4 linked regions of the Homo sapiens genome follow. The protein of the gene in region 3 interacts with the protein of the main gene of each other region in a biochemical or structural test. Each region holds a gene or a part of one and is shown on either strand. Other genes may lie near its edges.

Region 1 (5,496 bases), on a different chromosome or scaffold from region 3:
GGGTGGGTTGTTGACTGGTCCCAGTTCCCTGAAAATTCACTGACAAGAGGCAGATGGCTAGAAGAAAAGGTGTACTTATTTATTTAAGGTGTACATGGGGGCCTTCAGAAGGAAGGCCCAAAGATACAGGGGAAATTGCCTAGTTTTATGCTTAGGTTCAACAAAACATGGAGAGCCCTGTCGAAATAGGATTGGACCAAAAGGGTGTGATCTGATGCTGATACTGAGTGAGGAAACCCAGCGAGGCCGGTGGCTCTAGATTCTTCTTGGCCTCTCTGAGCAGCCTTTTTTTCCTTCTGGGTAAGGGGCAGGTTCTTCTGTGGAATGGGAGGTCTTAGGACTGCAATCAACAAGGTAGAACAGTTGATTTCTTTATGGCCAGTTTTTACACAGACAAGTGAGGGAAAATCACAGTGATATTTTTGTTTTATGACTGGCTTTGGGGAAAAGCGTTCTGGTTTCGATGGCTAGCCTGGGGGAGAATGGGACCGAGAGACAGGAGGGCAGAAGATGACACAGAGACTGCTTCTGAGGCCTTCATTTTGGCGTATTGTTTTCTGAGCTCCAACATTGGCAAAAGGGGTTCCAAGCCGAGATGACCTAAGAGTACAGGCCTGAGGAGTGAGTGGTGTCCCCGCCATACTGAGGTTCTGAGTCTGGGCCCAGGACATGGTTGCACCGAAAGGCAGGGCAGGAAAGGGGAGCTGGGTTGGAGGGGGACAGACTGAGTCTGGGGTCCAGCGGGCAGTTGAAACTGCTGGTGAGGACATGAGGCCAGTTTGAATCCAAGCAGCCTGGCTTCAAACTCCTTGTTCCGGAGGAGGAACCGCAAGTCCTCCCAAGGCCTTGGAGAAAAGTGAGCTAAAGGCAGAACGTGGGCCGATAACGTGGGGGCGTGGGGGGACCGCGACCCAGCCCGGGGAAGGCGTCCCAGCATGGACCCAGCAGCCTGGGCAGCCTGGGCGGGAAGTTCTGATCGCGCTCTGCCGAATTGGCAGGCGCAATAAGTAAGCGGAAAAACCAGGATTCAAACCAACCACCAACACCCTTCCCTGGCGTTCAGACCGAAGGTGGGTGGGAAGGCCCTGGCGAAGGAGGTCTGCATCAGGCCTGGCCTTGAGGCGATCCCTTCTCACCCCAAACCTCCTGGACGCTGAGCAAGCCCCTTCGCCTGTGTGGGTTGCCCGGCTGCCCTCTGGGGAAAGTTGGGTGATCAAATCCCAAGTTGTAGCTCTCGATGGGTCGAGGGCGATGGCCAGCGCTGTGCTGGGAACGGGCAGCCCTGCCCTGCCCTGCCCTGCCCTGCCCTGCCCTGCCCTGCCCTGCCCCACATGGGCGCAGGAGGCCTCCGCACGCGCAAGGGCCAAGGGCTGGAGGGGGCTCTCCCGGGCACAGGCACCGGACCCGGGGCGCGCGCGCGCGTCCTTAGTCCCCGGGCTGCACTCCGGGCCGCTGAGAGATCGGGTCCCAGAAGTTCCGGGAGTGGTCGGGTGACCCTGGAACTTTCTTCTTCTGGAGCCCGACCTGGGGCTGACTGCAGAGCAGGCTGCTGGCAGGGACCAAAAGGAGCTCCGCGCCAGGCCGGAGGCTGCGCCCGTCACTCGCGGTCCCGGCCGGGTCCCTGGCGCGTAGTCAGGCCGCACCGCCCGAGCCCCACCGCGCGCCCACCCCGGCCGGGTGCGTCCGGCTCGCGGCCGTCCCTCCCGCGACCTGTGGCCCGGGGCTGCTGCGGGCGCCCGGGGAAGAGAGGCGGGGGCCGCGGGGGGCAGGAGGAGCGGCTGCGGCCGGCACAGCGCCAGGGCGAGTGAGGCGGGTGGCGCGGGGGAGGCGGCGGAGTAAAGAGAGGCCGCCGGCTGGGTCCGCGGGTCACTCCGAGGCGCGGGCTGCGGGCGGCGGGCGGCGGGCGCACCATGCCCTCCTTCGACGAGGCGCTGCAGCGGGTGGGCGAGTTCGGGCGCTTCCAGAGGCGCGTGTTTTTGCTGCTGTGCCTGACGGGCGTCACCTTCGCCTTCCTCTTCGTCGGCGTGGTCTTCCTGGGCACGCAGCCCGACCACTACTGGTGCCGCGGGCCAAGTGCCGCGGCGCTGGCCGAGCGCTGCGGCTGGAGCCCGGAGGAGGAGTGGAACCGCACGGCGCCCGCCTCCCGCGGCCCAGAGCCCCCCGAGCGCCGCGGCCGCTGCCAGCGCTACCTCCTGGAGGCGGCCAACGACAGCGCCTCCGCCACTAGCGCTCTCAGCTGCGCGGACCCACTCGCCGCCTTCCCCAACCGCTCGGCTCCCCTTGTGCCGTGCCGCGGCGGCTGGCGCTACGCCCAGGCCCACTCCACCATCGTCAGCGAGGTAAGGGCGCCCCGGCCCTTTGGAAGCCGGCGGGAGAGGACGATGCTGGCTCCCAGGCGGACAAGCCGCGTGTGAGACGCTGGCCGCCAGGGGAGGTCGGTGGAGACGGGGACCGGTCGGCTACCTCTGGGGACAGACAGGATTCAGCGCACCCTTGGAAGTGCCGCGTCGTAAATGCTGGGAAAAGCCTTTCGTTATCTGCCTGAGCCCGTGAGTTAATGCACAGATACTTTGGTTTCGGGTGTGAACAAAAACTTTCTTCGAAGCCGAGTTGTAAACGCCTGGCGCACGCCTGCTCAGGAGTCAAAGACCCAGCACCGCGTTCCTTATCTTTGAGGTGTGCGGGCGCCGTCATTGGAAATTATGGTTAGGTGCGCGATAGGGAACTTCAGTCTCTGGGGTGAGCGACGTTGGCAGTTCCGGATTCGCTTATGGTCTCCAGGGTCAAAGGAAAGGGCGAACCAACGTTTGAAGGCAGCAGCAGCTTTTTTCCAGTTGCCCAAATGGTTACTCAAAATGCAAGGGGACAAAGGTCGAGGCTTTCCCGGGGAATGGTTTTGGTAAAATTGCTTTGGGGCAAAGAGCAACATCTGGGATAAGTTGGGAAAACTGAAGTATTGGATAAATTTTAGTTTTTTTTTCTGGTAATAAATTTTAGGAACATAGCGGGAGGGCCACAGCCTTCCAACGCAAATCCCCAACCCATTTACAGGCGGAGGCTGCTGCCGGCGGGTGGGCGGGGGCGATCCCCACATTTTGGGCAGTCAGTGCATTTGGAAGTTAGGGGAGCTTCCTTCACCCTTGCCCTCAGTAATCTGTTTCTGCATCCTTGCTGAAATGGAAGATTGCCTCTCTGTGAGGTCCAGATATAGAGCAGAGTCACTTTGTAATAATCGGAACTCAGAAACGGCCTCAATTGAGCATGGGTTGCAGAGATGAGCAGTTTTACTGAGCTTTGTCTACAATCACAGCTTAAGTTAATTTTAAAAAAAGATTGAATGTGATCAGGTACATTAGGAAAAAAGGTTTGTCTTTTTTTTGTGATAAACTTTAAAAAATCACCTACTTGAAGAGTGGGGAAAACACTGGATGAGGAGGTAGGAGCGCCCTTTCTGCCGCTGTTGCTGTTGGTCTGGTGAGCTTATCTCGCTGCAGTTGGGAGTGTCGGTGGTTGCAATTGTACATGTTTTATACGCCATGTGCTGGTGTGTTCGCACAGTGGATGGCTCTATGCTATGTGCTCCAGGGATAAAACCCATGGCAGGACAGCCAGGCGATGTGTGTATGTGTTTGGGATCTTTCTGTAACGCCGTGTGCTGCTGTGTTCGCACAGTGGATGGCTCTATGCTAAGTGCTCCAGGGATAAAACCCCCTGGCAGGACAGCCAGGCAATGTGTATGTGTGTTCAGGGTGTTTCTATAATGCCACATGCAAGTGTGTTCGCACACTGAGTGGCTCTATGCTGAGTGATCTCAGGATAAACCCCCCTGGCAAGACAGCCAGGCAATACATATGTGTGTTGGGATCTTTAATTTCTACTTAATCCATGGTAAGGCTGGGGACTGCTTTATAATTGGTGATGGTCTGGTTAGAGATTTCACAGTTGAAAGGACAGGGCATGGACTTGGATGAGAGAGGGCATTATCTCTGTGAGTCGCATCTGTTAGGTGGCTTCTTCCACTCCACTCAGCAGCGCTGCCTAATGCTTACTTCCCAAGTGAACCAGAGGACCCACATGGAGGGCAGACAGCTGATTTTTGGAGACATTTAAAGATGAAGAATAAAACGAGCCTCAACAAGTGCTCAAGCGAGGTTTGCATGAGTGAGTATGATCCATGGACATCAAAGAAGACAGACATAAAAATCTGTAATTTAATGCTCTGACGGATACTTTGGAAGCATTCTGGAGTTGCAGGGTTACTAGCATCCCGGGGTTACAATAAGGTGATTTTATGAAGATCAGTGGCTACTAAAATGCAGTGTGGAATGATGGAGGGTCAGGGGCTGGCTCGGTCTCCAGCTGGCTGTGTGGCTTGGGTGAGTTACTCGCCTTCTCTGGGCTTGTATTTTTCCTCTGTAAAATTAGCCATTGGATTCAGCCCGTTACAATGCTCCAAATGCCATCAGGGTCACCACCTGGTTACTGTTTGGTGTGCCCAGAACAATGATTAAAAAGTCTTTAAGAAAGTAGAATGATATTAGGAATGTACCCCGTAAAGCCCCAAAAAAGTTTTTGAAATATATTGGAGAGATTCTTTTTTGTTTTGTTTTGTTTTGTTTTCTTTGAGACGGAGTCTCTCTCTGTCGCCCAGGCTGGTGTGCAGTGGCGTGATCTCGGCTTACTGCAAGCTCCGCCTCCCAGGTTCCTGCCATTCTCCTGCCTCAGCCTCCCGAATAGCTGGGACTACAGGCGACTGCCACCATGCCCGGCTAATTTTTTGTATTTTTAGTAGAGGCGGGGTTTCACTGTGTTAGCCAGGATGGTCTCGATCTCCTGACCTCGTGATCCGCCCGCCTTGGCTTCCCAAAGTGCTGGGATTACAGGTGTGAGCCACCGCGCCCAGCCTCTTTTTAAATTCCAAATAGTTTTGTGCTTCTTTTGGTTTGTTTTTCATGTTTGGTTTCTTAAGAGGAAAACCCCCATCTATTCATAAAGTTCAACTATCCAAAACAAGTCAGCAACTCTCTGAATTCTGCATAGCTAATATTTTGCTGTCTTTGGTTCAACTAATTTTTTTCTTTCAAATTCTGTCTGATGAAAGGAACTGTAGTTCCATCTTCAGCTAACATTATGTATCCAGTGTATTTTTATAAACTTGAAGCCTAAGATACAAATCATGCAAAGGGGTGAATTGGGAGAGTTTACAAAGTGGGCGGGATGACCAGACTCCAGAATGCCTCCATATAGCTATAATACTTCATCCTTGCACCATGGTGGGAGGGGTATCATTGTCCTGGCTTCATAGAAGAGAGACCTGAGGACCTTCCAGGGTCCCACGCCATTTATGTAGCCAAACTGGATTCAAATCCGGGGGCCTTGATTGTAAGTCAGTCCACTTTCCTCCATAAAGTGCTCAAAATCCTTCAAGCAAGTCCATGAAACATAGTACTCAGATCTCTCACACTTTATAACCTGCAGAAACCTCGTTGAAACTTT
Region 2 (4,795 bases), about 140 Mb from region 3:
GCACTGGAGGGGTTGGTTGCCATAGTGACATGTTCTTCCGGTGAAGCTGGAAACAGAGACAGGGAAAGGGATAGGGGAAGAATGTACAACATTTTGATTTTGTATCGACTGATTTTTAATTGCAGCAACAGAAAATGGACATGGCACAGCAGGGGTATTGAATACACTGATACCTAGAGTTGGCAGGGCATTGTATTTCACTTGAACTAATGGAAATGGTGTTCCCCATCGCCCAAAATACAGCAATCACTGTCAGCGGCAAGCACCCGCTTACCATGGCTGTTTCTGTCCATTTGACATTCTTGTTAGGTATTATTGAGATAGATGACATGCCAGCCTTACAAATCTTGAGAGAGTTAAGGTCACTATCTTCATTTTTAACCTCAACACACACTCTTTGAAAACCAGATCTTCCTTTTCTGAGCAGCAATAGACACATTTTGGAAATAAGTGCATGTTATATTAGTAGAATTCACAAGCAATTCCAATAACATATAGAACACAATTTTTACACTTAGTGTTCCTCTTAGATGGGCAGATTTTATAAGGAAGTTAAAAAGAGAAACTGATATCCCTATATTTAAATGAGACATTTTAGAAAAAGATGTTTATCTCACATTATTCATTAGAAACCGCAAAAGAGATCTCAGACCTCTGTCTTCTTTGAAATATCTACTTTGATTAAAATTCTGGAAGATATGTAATGGGCAAGGGAAAAAGAAAACCAGAGAAAAGACTTTAAAATCCGTTAATATATAGGAAAATTAGAGACTTATCTAAATGATCTAAAGAACTTAGTTATTTGTTAAATCGATGTTCATTACATTAGAAAGTGCTATTTGTGCATTTCAACATAAAACCACATAATTAATAAGAAAACGAACATCAAATCTATGTCTGATTTGAAGGTAAAGTCCTCTGGATTCATATTCATTCTGAAATCCATTCCCCTCCAGGACCTTCTGCCATGCTGTACCCACACGTATGCATTTCTCATCACTGTGTATTCATTTGTTTGCATTATTAAACTGTAAGTTCCTAGAGGTCAGGAAAGACCATCATTTGTTAAATACATTCACCAGATGCTTGGTATTTGGGAAATATTTCATACAAATTAGGTTCACAGAAATGTATCCATCCAAGCTTATTCTAATTATAGAAACACTTGTGTGAGAATTTAAGTAAAAAATTAGAAAATCGTGATGGGAAAATATGAAACAGTGTGGCTGTCAGGCCAGGTCAATATTGCAACAAATGCTACATAATCTATGAAGGGACGATTTCTTGAGCTTTGCCAAAGAATAAGGAAAACAGACAATTCTGTTTTGGATAACATGTCACTAAGCAGACACATATCACTTGTGGACATTATTTTTTATGATGGATAAGGTTTTAATTATTTCCTTCTTGGGGGTAAGATTGGATATAGGGTACAGCAAGGGTAGATTACCCTGAATTCCCATTTGTTGGCATCCATGACAAGTCTTAAATCAGGTCCTTTTGTCTTCTTGCTTTTAAATCTCATCCATGTCTCCCTAGTAAGTGACTGCAGGCACTGGGGACAGATCAGTGACAAGATCAGTTTCTGAAATCCAAGAGACTTCCAGACCCTTAGGAGGAGGAGTTATAGGTAGGATTTTGTTCTAGGGAACTCTAAGGGGAAAATTATATTATTTGGTTTGTACTAAAATATTATATTGATATAGTTTGAAATAAGTAGAACTTCAACTGATACTCTAAGAACTTTTTATTATTTGAAAATTGGCCTTATAATAGACTTTGACTTAAAGAGTTCCCATAATCACAGAGTGGTTGTCAATACTCCAAAAGTAATTTTAAGAAAACATTCACATATTTAAAAATTAATAATGGGATCAGCAAATATTTACTACACATGTATTGTGTTATGGGCACACATCGCTAGGATGAAGAAATGCATAAGATCTGGTCCTCAGAATTTGCATAGTCTGTTAGTGTCAGAGAAAATAGGTTACAACTACAGGATGATGAGAGCAGCAACAGAAACAGATGCAGAGGAACACAGAGAAAGTGATGGTGGATTGTGTCGGCAGTAGCGGGAGGTAGGCAGGAGGAGGTTAGGGAAAGTTGTCCTGAGGAAATGAAATCTGAACAAGATGTTTGATAAGGTTTGGAGGTGGATGTGGAGGAAGGATATTTCAGGCAATGGGCCAGCATATGCACAGCCATAGAGGTGTGGAACAGCAGTTTGGCCTTGTGAGTGTTGATTTCTGGGGCAAGGAGAAGGAGCAGACCAGGAGCTGGAGAGCAGCCATGGACCAAGTCAGGGAGCTCGTATATCAAATCCCCTACAGCTATGCTGCCCAGTTGGGGAGCCACAACCCACATGTGGCTGTTCAAGTTAACAATAACCAAAGTTAAATAAAATAGGCTGGGCACAGTGGTTCACGCCTGTAATCCCAGCACTTTGGGAGGCCGAGGCAGGTGAATCACTTGAGTTCAGGAGTTCGAGACCAGCCTCGCCAACATGGTGAAAACCCATCTCTAGTAAAAATACAAAAATTAGCTGGGCATGGTGGTGTGTGTCTGTAATGCCAGCTACTCAGGAGGCTGAGGCAGGAGAATCGCTTGAACCTAGGAGGTAGAGGTTGCGGTGATCTGGTATCATGCCGTTGCACTCCAGCCTGGGTGACAGAGCGAGACTCTGTCTCAAAAAACAAACAAACAAAAATTATTTCCGTAGTTGTATTGGCCACATTTCAAATGTTCAGTAGCCGTATGTGCCTACTGGCTATTGTATGGGACAGTGCAGATTACAGTGAACATTCCCACCATCGGAGAAAATTCTGTTGGACAGCGCCACGCAGAGCCTATAGCCTCTAAAAGAACCAAGCACATAACTTTGTTTCAGATGAGTATAATTCCATGATAACTTGGGTTTAAATTTAAGTATATCATTCTACACTTTAAGAAACTGCTACTTGAATATATTGGGCAGAAGGCTTTAGTTCATGGTCAATTATAGTAAATTTATATTTTAATTTTCTATCATCAACTCACAGAATTCTCACAAGCTTCTCCCTTCTTCCCTCCTGCCCTCTCCATCTCCATTAAACATCACTTGCAAAGTTGGTGGGGTGGGAAAGAGATTAATGATAATTATAGCCAATCTTGATGACAGGTCTCTCCTAAAAGTTTTATATGTATTAGCTAATTTATTGTTCATAATAACCCTAGGAAGTATAAGTATTATTTTAAATTCTCATCCTAAATTTGAGGGAACTGAGGCACAGAAAGGTCAGATAACTTGTGAATTCTCACAGTTAGTTAGGAAACAAAGGTGTCAGAATTTGAATTCTGGCTCTGGATGTGGGAACTCACCCACCACACTCTACCATCATCTTAGAATCTATCGGGGCAGGAGTGAGGTGGAGAAGAAACTGGGATATTGATTCCACAAATTGAGAATAAAAAGGAAATAATACTCTTGGAATCTCAATTCTAAATTGAAGTAATGAGAGTGGCTCACACACCCTGTTTTGAAGCTCACTGACCAAAGTGCATACACATTTTGTCATATAACTTTTGCTTATTTACTTCGCTTGCTGTGGTAGATGCTGAAATTATAGACATGAAGGACACATTCATTCATTCAACAAGTATTTATTGAGGGCCTTTGGGCTGTGCATCAGGTACAGTGTTGGACCAAATGGAGAAGCTTACATTCCAGAGGGGAGAGACGGACAATAAATAAATACTCCACGGCTGGGCACGGTGGCGCACGCCTGTAATCCCAGAATTTTGGGAGGCTGAGGAGGGCGGATTACGAGGTCAAGAGATTGAGACCATCCTGGCCAACATGGTTGAAACCCTGTGTCTACAGAAAATACAAAAATTAGCTGGGTGTGGTGGCGCATGCCTGTAATCCCAGCTACTCGAGAGGCTGAGGCAGGAGAATGGCTTGAATCCAGGAAGCGGAGGTTGCAGTGAGCCGAGATCGTGCTACTGCACCCCAGCCTGGGTGATAGAGCGAGACTCCATCTGAAGAAAAATAGTCATAGAGTAAAAATAATATCTAATATATGAATCGTGTAATATAGCACAGGGTAATGGGCACCATGAAGGTCTGCCCTTACGAAGCGCAAAGGGGAAGAATGACAAGTAAGGCAAAAATGAAATGCAGTCATGTGCCCTGTAACATTTTGGTTAAAGACAGACTGCAGTGGTCTCATAAGGTTATCATGGAGCTGAAAAATTCTTATGGCCTAGTGACATCATAGATGTCACAGTGCAGCAACCCATTACTCCTGTGTTTGGGTTGAGGCTGGTGTAAACAAAGCTACTGCACTGCCGGCGGTATAGAAGTCTAGCACAAACAATTATGTACAGTATGTAATACTTGATAATAAAATGACTGTTACTGGTTTATATATTTACTATGCTATACTTCTAATCATTGTTTTAGAGTGTACTCCTTCTGCTTATAAAAAAAAGTTAACTGTAAAACAGCCCCAGGTGGGTCCTTCAGGAGGTATTCCAGAAGAAGGCATTGTTATCAGGAGGTGACAGCTCCATGTGCACCATTGCCCCTGAAGACTTTCCAGTGGGCTAAAATGTGGAGGTGGAAGACAGCGAGATTGATGATCCCAACCCTCTGCAGGCTTAGGCTAATGTGTGTGTGTGTGTGTCTTAGTTTTTAACAAAAACGTTTCAAAAGTTGAAAAATAAAAAATTTTATAAACAGAAAAAAGCTTATAGGATAAGGATATAAAGAAAGAGCCTGGGTGCAGTGGCTCACACCTGTAATCCCAGCACT
Region 3 (4,072 bases):
CCCAGGAGGCTGCTGCCATTCACCTCCAGGATACGGTCCCCCAGCGACAGGCGCCCGTCGGCCGCTGCGGGGCTGCCCGGGAGCAGGGTCTGGATGTAGAGCCCGGGGGCGCCCAGGTGCGTGTGCTGGGGACAAGCAGAGGCCTCAGAGCTCCGCAGGCCCGACTGGCTGTCCCCAGCGAGGACCACTGCAGCCCCTCCCTTGGCACCTACAGGCCCCCGCCTGGCATCCAGCCAGGCCCACTCATGGTTTCACGCGTCCCTCCAGAAAAGCAGTGGACACCACCGTCCCCACAGGCCCAGGACAGACCCCAAAGGCTTGAGGACAGAGGCAAGAGACAGCAGGCCCAGGGGGCGTGGCCGTTGGACAGGCTGGGTTCCCCTCCCAGCTGCAGAGGCCAACCCCACTCTCCTCCCCGAAGGCCTTCCTGTAGCCACGTGGCCACGCAAGCTGCGGCCAGGCTTGCATGAACAGGCGGGGCCAGGCAGCCAGTATGGGGGTGCGGCGAGGGTCCTGGGCCACTCACCATCCCGTCGATCAGGCCCATCCCCAGCCCGGAGGGGCCTCGTTCCAGCTCCACCGTGAAGACGTAGCAGAAGTCCTCGGTGCTGGAGCTGCGGCTGGACGGGGCTGGAGGGGACTCCTCCGCAAGGGCTGCAGAGTCTCCTGGGTGGGGGCCAGGAAAGGTGGGTGGGAGTGAGGCGCCAGGAATCACGACGAGGAATGGGATGTCCTGGCCTGGCTGCCTCTGTAGGGCGTCAGGGATGGGATGGCCTCCTGTGGCTCCCAGGAGACGCTGTTCAGGCAGAATGTGACCGGCAACCCAGACATTAGGGTCGGGGTCCGCCCATGGGCGACACCCCCATGTTCCCTGAGGGAGCACCTCAGTCCCCGCCCCTGGCAGTCCCAGGACACTCGCCCCTCTGGGGGCGGCTGTTTTCCAGCTCCAGGGACCCACGCGGTTCTGTGCCACCTCCTCAGCAATCTCTGCTCCTCCTCCTCCTCCCTCCACACCCAGATGTGGCCATGTGCACCCTGAGGGTTCCCACCGCTGACCAGACCGGGGCCCCAGGCCCTAGCCCAGCCCAGCCCAAGCACCTGCCCTGAGGGCCACCAGCTGGTGCCCTCTCCATAATGGTGATCCTGCCGTGGGTGCACTTAGGTCAGAGATGAGCTGTGCACCTGAGCAAGTGGCCTGCCTGGGACCCAGCTTGGCCAGGTGGCCCCAAGCCACAGGGGACACTCTGACTCTGCACACGCACCCAGGACACTTCGCTCCTGCAAGGCACACCCAAGCCCCTCACAGGAGGCCAGGGCCGGCTGGGGCTGCCTCACCCTCAATGCCCTCCCCAGCCTAGGCCAGCTGCGCACACACACTCATGCACACATATACTCACAGCCATGCACACATGTGCAAGCATGCCCATGCACACGTGCACTTACACCCATGCACAGATGCACACACAATGCACACCATGCAGACACACCCATGCAGAGATGCACACACAATGCACACCATGCAGACACACCCATGCAGATGCACACACCCATGCACACACGCACCAGCACACCCATGCACCTGTGAGCACACATATCCACACGCACAAGCACACAGGCACACACAGGCCCTGCCCTGGAGGACTCCAGCTCCACCTTCTCCCTGAAGACCCCTGGGTTCCCCCTCAGCACATCCTCTCCACTGGCTCAGCCATCCCTTCCTCTGCCCAGTGCAGGAGTGACTCTGAGCCACTTTCTAGACTCTCTCCCTCCCAGATCACAGTGAGTATCTGCCCAAGACGTGTCAGCGACTGAGCGACCGTGTGGCCCAGCTGCTGGGGGCTGAGCAGCCCTGAGCCCTCTCCATCTGGCCCCGTCTCAGGTTGCAGGTGTCTGTGGGGCAGGTAAGGAAACCTAGGACCCAAGGGGGGAACGATCCCAGGGGACCGGCCATCAGGGTGCTGTGCGGGGTCTGGGGTGGGTTCCCGCCTGAGCACCAGGCAGGGCTCACCTTCCGGAGCTGCACCCCGGAGGCCGCTGAGTCCGTTCCTCTGCCTCTCTGGGAGCGCTTTTCCACAGGGGCCGCCGGACTCTGGCCAGTCGGGGTCCCCAGGCTCAGGGCCAAGTGGAGTGCTGGGAGGCGTGAGCAAGCAGGACGAGTCCGTGTGCGGGGGGCCAGCCTGGGAGCCCCCACGGCTGGGTTGCCTTCCAGGGGGGGCCTGTGCCCAGGGAGCCCCCCTCAAGGGAAGAGTACGCTCCGGGGCCACTTCCCGGGCTGCTGGGCCAGGGTCCCTGGGAGCCAGGGGGCAGCTCGGGGCCTCCAGGTGCCCGTCAAGGACCACGTGGTGCATACCCTAGGGAGAGGAAGGGTGACAGCTCAGGTAGAGGAGTGGCCAGGTGGACACAGCACTCGGGCAACTGGGCAGCCTGCAGCAGAAGGGCCGCCAGGCCGCGGGGCAGAGGTCAGCAAAGGACTCCCGCAGCCTGTGCAGCTTGAGACGCGCAAGAGGCAAAGGGGCTTCCCCGCCATCCGGAGCACAGCCTGCGCTGGGCCAGGACTCCCGGGGTTCCCAGAGCTCCCGCCTGCTGCCCCCAGCCCAGCTTCCAACCCTTCTCCTGTCCTCCCGGGCACCTCGGGGCACGCTGGCTGGGGGGCCCCCTCCCCAGGTACCTCGGGGCATGCTGGCTGGGCCCCCTCCCCGGGTACCTCGGGGCACGCTGGCTGGGGGGCCCCCTCCCCGGGTACCTCGGGGCACGCTGGCTGGGCCCCCTCCCCGGGCACCTCGGGGCACGCTGGCTGGGCCCCCTCCCCGGGCACCTCGGGGCACGCTGGCTGGGGGGCCCCCTCCCCAGGTACCTCGGGGCATGCTGGATGGACCCCCTCTCTGGGCACCTCAGGGAATGCTGGCTGGACCCCCTCCCCGGGCACCTCGGGGCACTCTAGCTGGGGGGCCCCCTCCCCGGGTACCTCGGGGCATGCTGGCTGGACCCCCTCCCCGGGCACCTCGGGGCACTCTGGCTGGGGGGCCCCCTCCCCGGGTACCTCGGGGCACGCTGGCTGGGTCCCCTCCCCAGGCACCTCGGGGCACGCTGGCTGGGCCCCCTCCCCGGGCACCTCGGGGCACGCTGGCTGGGGGGCCCCCTCCCCAGACACCTCGGGTCATGCTGGCTGGACCCCCTCCCCGGGCACCTCGGGGAATGCTGGCTGGACCCCCTCCCCGGGCACCTCGGGGCACTCTGGCTGGGGGGCCCCCTCCCCGGGCACCTCGGGGAATGCTGGCTGGGTCCCCTCCCCGGGCACCTCGGGGCACGCTGGCTGGGGGGCCCCCTCCCCGGGTACCTCGGGGCACTCTGGCTGGGCCCCCTCCCCGGGCACCTCAGGGCACGCTGGCTGGGGGGCCCCCTCCCCGGGTACCTCGGGGCACGCTGGCTGGGTCCCCTCCCCGGGCACCTCGGGGCACGCTGGCTGGGGGGCCCCCTCCCCGGGTACCTCGGGGCACTCTGGCTGGGTCCCCTCCCCGGGCACCTCGGGGCACGCTGGCTGGGGGGCCCCCTCCCCGGGTACCTCGGGGCACACTGGCTGGGCCCCCTCCCCGGGCACCTCAGGGCACGCTGGCTGGGGGGCCCCCTCCCCGGGCACCTCGGGGCACGCTGGCTGGGTGGCCCCCTCCCCGGGCACCTCAGGGCACGCTGGCTGGGTCCCCTCCCCGGGCACCTCGGGGCACGCTGGCTGGGTGGCCCCCTCCCCGGGCACCTCGGGGCACACTGGCTGGGCCCCCTCCCCGGGCACCTCGGGGCACGCTGGCTGGGTGGCCCCCTCCCCGGGCACCTCGGGGCACGCTGGCTGGGTCCCCTCCCCGGGCACCTCGGGGCACGCTGGCTGGGGGGCCCCCTCCCCGGGTACCTCGGGGCACACTGGCTGGGAGGCCCCACTGCCAGGCCTGCCAGGGCTGCCGGGGCTGGCTCTGCTCCGCAGACCCCACAGAAAGTGGCGGACGTAGAGCAGGTGCTGGTAGATGCTGTCGTCCAGGCAGTTGGCTTCCAAGTCCACCTGGAAGCCGTCGCTGGGCAGGAC
Region 4 (4,795 bases), on a different chromosome or scaffold from region 3:
AGTACAATGGCACGATCTCGGCTCACTGAAACCTCCACCTCCTGGGTTCAAGGGATTCTCCTGCCTCAGCCTCCTGAGTAGCTGGGATTACAGGCATGCGCCACCATGCCCTGCTAATTTTTTGTATTTTTAGTAGAGATGGGTTTCTCCATGTTGGTCAGGCTGGTCTCGAACTCCCGACCTCAGGTGATCCATCCACCTTCTCCTCCCAAAGTGCTGGGATTACAGGTGCGAACCACTGGCACTGTTGTCTTCTTATAATCTGTTCACACAGCAATAGCAGCCAGAATGACCCTTATAAAATGTAATTAGGTTATATAATCTCCTGCTTACCATCCTACAATGGTTGCCCTTCACATTTAGAAGGAAATCCATATTCCTTATTTAGAAAAAGTCCCACACAAGTTTACCTCTCTGTCCCCTGTTCCCTCTGCCCCACCCTCACCTGCTAGCCTAGGAACATAAGCCTTCTTTGTTTCCTTGAACACGCCAACATTATTTCTGCCTTAGGGTTCTTGGCATTAGCTATCCTGTCTACTGGAAGTGCTGATGTACTTTAGCCATACTGTACATGTCTAACTTCTGACCTTCAGATGGCTGTTTAAATGTCGCCTCTTCAGAGAAGTCTTCCCTGGTGATTCTATCTGAAATAACTTTTTAGTAATTCAGTTATTCAATATTATAACACCCTATTTTAACTTTATGCATAGCTGCTATCACCATCAGATATTTTTGTATATGTTTATGTTTAGGGTCTCTTTCACTAGAATGTAAGAACTAAGACTTTGATTATACTGCACACTTGAAACTCTGTCTGGCACTGAATGAGTAATCAAATGCTTAAATCAAACAAAGCAAAAAAGTTATGTGGGATCTTGAATGACAAGATATAGAAGTTGGGCTTTATTCAGAAGACAAGTGGAAGAATGCTAAGGTTTTTGAGGTAGAAAGATGCAACAGACATACTGCTTGACCTAAAAGAGTTTATAATTCACAGATAACCCAAACAGATAATCCACATTCTTAAAAGGAGAAGCTCAATACAAAGCACCATTTCATTAGTAGCAAATGACTGACATAGAACAATTGATGCTGCAGGAATGTGGCTAAGAAAGTGGGCAGGGATAGTTTGAAGGAAGTTAGAACTGCAAGACTATAGGACATACACAAGTGGAGAAGTCAGGGAGGAAACTGCCTCTCTTTTATTTTCCTTTTCTTTCCTCTTCTCCCCTCTCCCTTCCCTTCCCCTCCCCTCCCCTTCCCTTTCCTTTTCTTTTTTTCCTTTCGTTTCCTTTCCCTTCTCCTTTCCTTCTTTCTTTCTTTTTTTCTGAGATGAGGTCTTGCTATATCACCCACGCTGGTCTCAAACGCCTGGGCTCAAGTGATTCTCCTGCTTCAGCATCCCAGGTACTTGGGATTACAGGTGTAAGCCAATGCACCCAGCAGGGAATATCTTTTTTTTTTCTTTTTAGACAGGTTTCACTCTGTCACCCAGGCTAGAGTGCAGTGGCATGATCTTGGTTCACTGCAACCTCCGCCTCCTGGGTTCAAGTCATTCTCCTGCCTCAGCCTCCTGAGTAGCTGGGATTTCAGGTGCCCGCCACCATGCCCGGCTAATTTTTGTAATTTTAGTAGAGACAGGATTTTGCCATGTTGGCCAGGCTGATCTTGAACTCCTGACCTCAGGTGATCCTCCTGCCTCGGCCTCCCAAAGTGCTGGGATTATGGGCATGAGCCACCACGCCCGGCCTAGAAATATCTTGAATAGGGGAAATATTGTTGGTAAAAGTACAAAGGCAAGACATGTCTGTAATGAGCTCAGTGTACAGGGAATAGATTAGTCCAAAACTAATAGTATATACAAATGAACTTCAATGAATTTGTTATCAATATTTGGTTTTTCATAAAAACATGGTCTTTAAAGTAGAAATGCTTGCCTCAGAGGTCACAAAATGACAGTCATTCATAGAATATAAGTAAGCCCATAAAATAATGAATTAAATACACCCATAAAATCATGCCTATAAAATTATGAAATTGTTTTCTATTTTGACAAATTTGAATATTAATTGAGATCTGTTTTTTTTTTAATTTCCCACAGGGTTGCCACACCATTTGGAGGTTTTGAAAAAGCATCAAGAATGGTTAAATTTAAAGTTCCAGATTTTGAGCTACTATTGCTAACAGATCCCAGGTTTATGTCCTTTGTCAATCCCCTTTCTGGCAGACGGTCCTTTAATAGGACTCCTAAGGGATGGATATCTGAGAATATTCCTATAGTGATAACAACCGAACCTACAGATGATACCACTGTACCAGAATCAGAAGACCTATGAAAAGAAAGTTGTATGTGCCACATAAAACTCTGAATATAAAAGTTGCTGTTCTACTATTTTAACTACTGGCAAAGCCACTTGCATTTTTCATTAGTAGCAACAATAGCAATTTAGTGATTTTCCTTTTCTGACATTCAATTTCAATCTCAGATCAAATACTAATAAACAATTAGAAATCTTACTTTAAAAAACTTATAACTCACTTGTCTTCATTCATAATTTTGTTTTCACCTGGTTTAAAGAATCCAGATATTTTACTGCAAAAGTTCAGATGGAAAAGTAATTGACAGTTTCACCTTTGTCTCATTTTATATGATTTATTACAGTGTAAGTTTTTCAAGTGGAATCTAGAATCAAAATACAGGGAGAGATATGAAGACCTATTCAGAGTTTCATCTGGGGATGAAAGCTATGGAAGATGATGTACAAATGTTATTGATGGAGAAAATGGTTGGGTGTGTCCTTTCTGGTGACCATGAGAAAATAATATGTCTTGATGAAGTCTTTTCATTAGTCACTCTTAGAATTCTAAAGTGCTTTGCACTTTTCAATATGTTTTGAATCATTAGGTAATTTATTCTGGATGATATTCTCCAAAATTCAATTCAGTTATTATATTCATTTAGCATTAAGTCAAGGAGACTGAGAATGACTCAAGGGACGTCATAGTACCATAGTTTTAAGGACCAAGGTGTGCCCAGAATTCAAGTTTCACAAATCCCAATGCTGTGCATTGATTATGTTCAACTTTATGTGTGCATTCTTAGAAGAGTAAGAACAAATAAAGTACACCGTAATATACATATAAATACATTCATGTTTGTGAGAGAAGGAAAGAGTAAGTAATTTGAATTGGCAGCTTTCTTTGCTAAATCTTTAAATTCTGTTAAGATCCTCAAGTAACTGGGGAGTACATGCTTTAGGACACAAACAAAAACAAAGGGCATGAAAGTATCTGAAAGCAATGTAGCACATATCTATCGTAATATATGTAATATATTGACATAAAAGACACAAACTAATATAAAGTTATAGTTATATCTTAAAATATAATTGAAGAAGCATATGACATATAACTTATAGAAATCAGTATCAATTCCTCCCATTTCAATTCAGTTAAGACTTCTGTGATAGATGTTTATAGCAGAGAAGAAATGTCTCATCAATAGAAAACTATCAGATAAAGTTTAGGAGATAGGAAGAAGGACTGTGTGTAGTAATGAAAATACCAAGTTGCAACATTACATGTTTACAAAAAAAAATCTGTGTTTGTAGTGTGGAAGTTGGTGACTGTTTTAATCATCATCTAGACTTGTTAAGTAGAAAAATTTTAAAAATTTGCTTATGAAAATATAACCCCCAGAAAGTAACAATGACAAAGTATTATATTTATATATATTATTGTAGAGAATTTGTATATTTTTAAAGATGTCTTAAGATATCTTAATTTTATTTATAAGTTTTGGTGTTTACCTGTTTTAAAATGATAATGTTGGCATCTGTGATAAACTATCAATGAGGCTCCCATCATGCCATTTTTTGTTCATTTTAATCTTTAAAAAATAAAAATTAGGCATATTAATTATGCATTTTGATGAAATGGTTTAATTCTTTATTAACATCATGAAATGAGTCATTATTTTTAATGAAAATGAAATCTTTTTGCATTATTTCAACCATTTCCAAATATAAACTATATGATCACTGTCCCTATTCTGCCAACCACTGAAAGTAGAGGCCAGCAATTAAGTATGTTAGCTACAGAACAGTACTCCCCAGTATCATAAAAGATAATTTAAAAAGGAAAATCCTGGCCAGGTGCGGTGGCTCCGCCTGTAATCCCAGCACTTTGGGAGGCCGAGGTGGGCGGATCACGAGGTCAGGAGATTGAGACCATCCTGGCTAGCACGGTGAAACCCTGTCTCTACTAAAAATACAAAAAAATTAGCCAGGCGTGGTGGTCGAGGCCTGTAGTTCCAGCTACTCTGGAGGCTGACGCAGGAGAATGGCATGAACCCGGGAGGCGGAGCTTGCAGTGAGCTGAGATCACGCCACAGCACTCCAGCCTGGGCGACAGAGCAAGACTCCGTCTCAAAAGAAAAAAAGGAAAATCCTAAGTGATACTTATTTTTTTAAAAAGATTAGGTAGAAAAAGAAAAAATAACCCTCTGTTCACTATTTTATTTCTTTCTTTCTGGGAAGTGTCTATTAATTCTAGCTCAGCTGACACCTTTAGAAAGGCCAGCATTTCACTCTGGTTGTTACATAATTCAGAATTCAAAAGGAATTTTGAATGGGTTTTCCATTAACCTGAAAAACAGCTAAATCTTTCAAAGTCAAAAGAAATATGATAGTCTCTTTAGAACAACAGAAAGACCGCGACATTTTTTCCACCTGCTTTTGTATAAATAAGATATGGAAAAAAGGAGAAAAAATATTTTTTAAAAAGGTAAAAGAAT

Evidence for each region. Proteins that work in one complex are often made in the same cells at the same time.
Region 1: the proteins of RADIL (region 3) and SLC22A3 interact in a test that uses a peptide from one of them, tested with the Homo sapiens proteins (one large-scale study listed by IntAct).
Region 2: the proteins of RADIL (region 3) and TMEM178B interact in a test that uses a peptide from one of them, tested with the Homo sapiens proteins (one large-scale study listed by IntAct).
Region 4: the proteins of RADIL (region 3) and MYOZ2 interact in a test that uses a peptide from one of them, tested with the Homo sapiens proteins (one large-scale study listed by IntAct).

Annotation. Positions count from the first base shown.
Region 1 is NC_000006.12:160,346,510-160,352,005, forward strand, and holds the start of SLC22A3 (solute carrier family 22 member 3), read left to right. Parts: upstream 1-1,868; 5' UTR 1,869-1,910; coding exon 1,911-2,339; exon of another isoform or gene 2,340-2,513; coding exon of another isoform or gene 2,514-2,549; intron 2,550-2,570; exon of another isoform or gene 2,571-2,676; intron 2,677-3,148; exon of another isoform or gene 3,149-4,161; intron 4,162-5,496.
Region 2 is NC_000007.14:141,076,597-141,081,391, forward strand, and holds part of TMEM178B (transmembrane protein 178B precursor), read left to right. Parts: intron 1-4,795.
Region 3 is NC_000007.14:4,799,645-4,803,716, forward strand, and holds part of RADIL (ras-associating and dilute domain-containing protein), read right to left. Parts: coding exon 3,902-4,072; intron 2,352-3,901; coding exon 2,009-2,351; intron 667-2,008; coding exon 527-666; intron 126-526; coding exon 1-125. UniProt on the Homo sapiens protein: Downstream effector of Rap required for cell adhesion and migration of neural crest precursors during development.
Region 4 is NC_000004.12:119,183,865-119,188,659, forward strand, and holds the end of MYOZ2 (myozenin-2), read left to right. Parts: intron 1-2,101; coding exon 2,102-2,336; 3' UTR 2,337-3,925; downstream 3,926-4,795.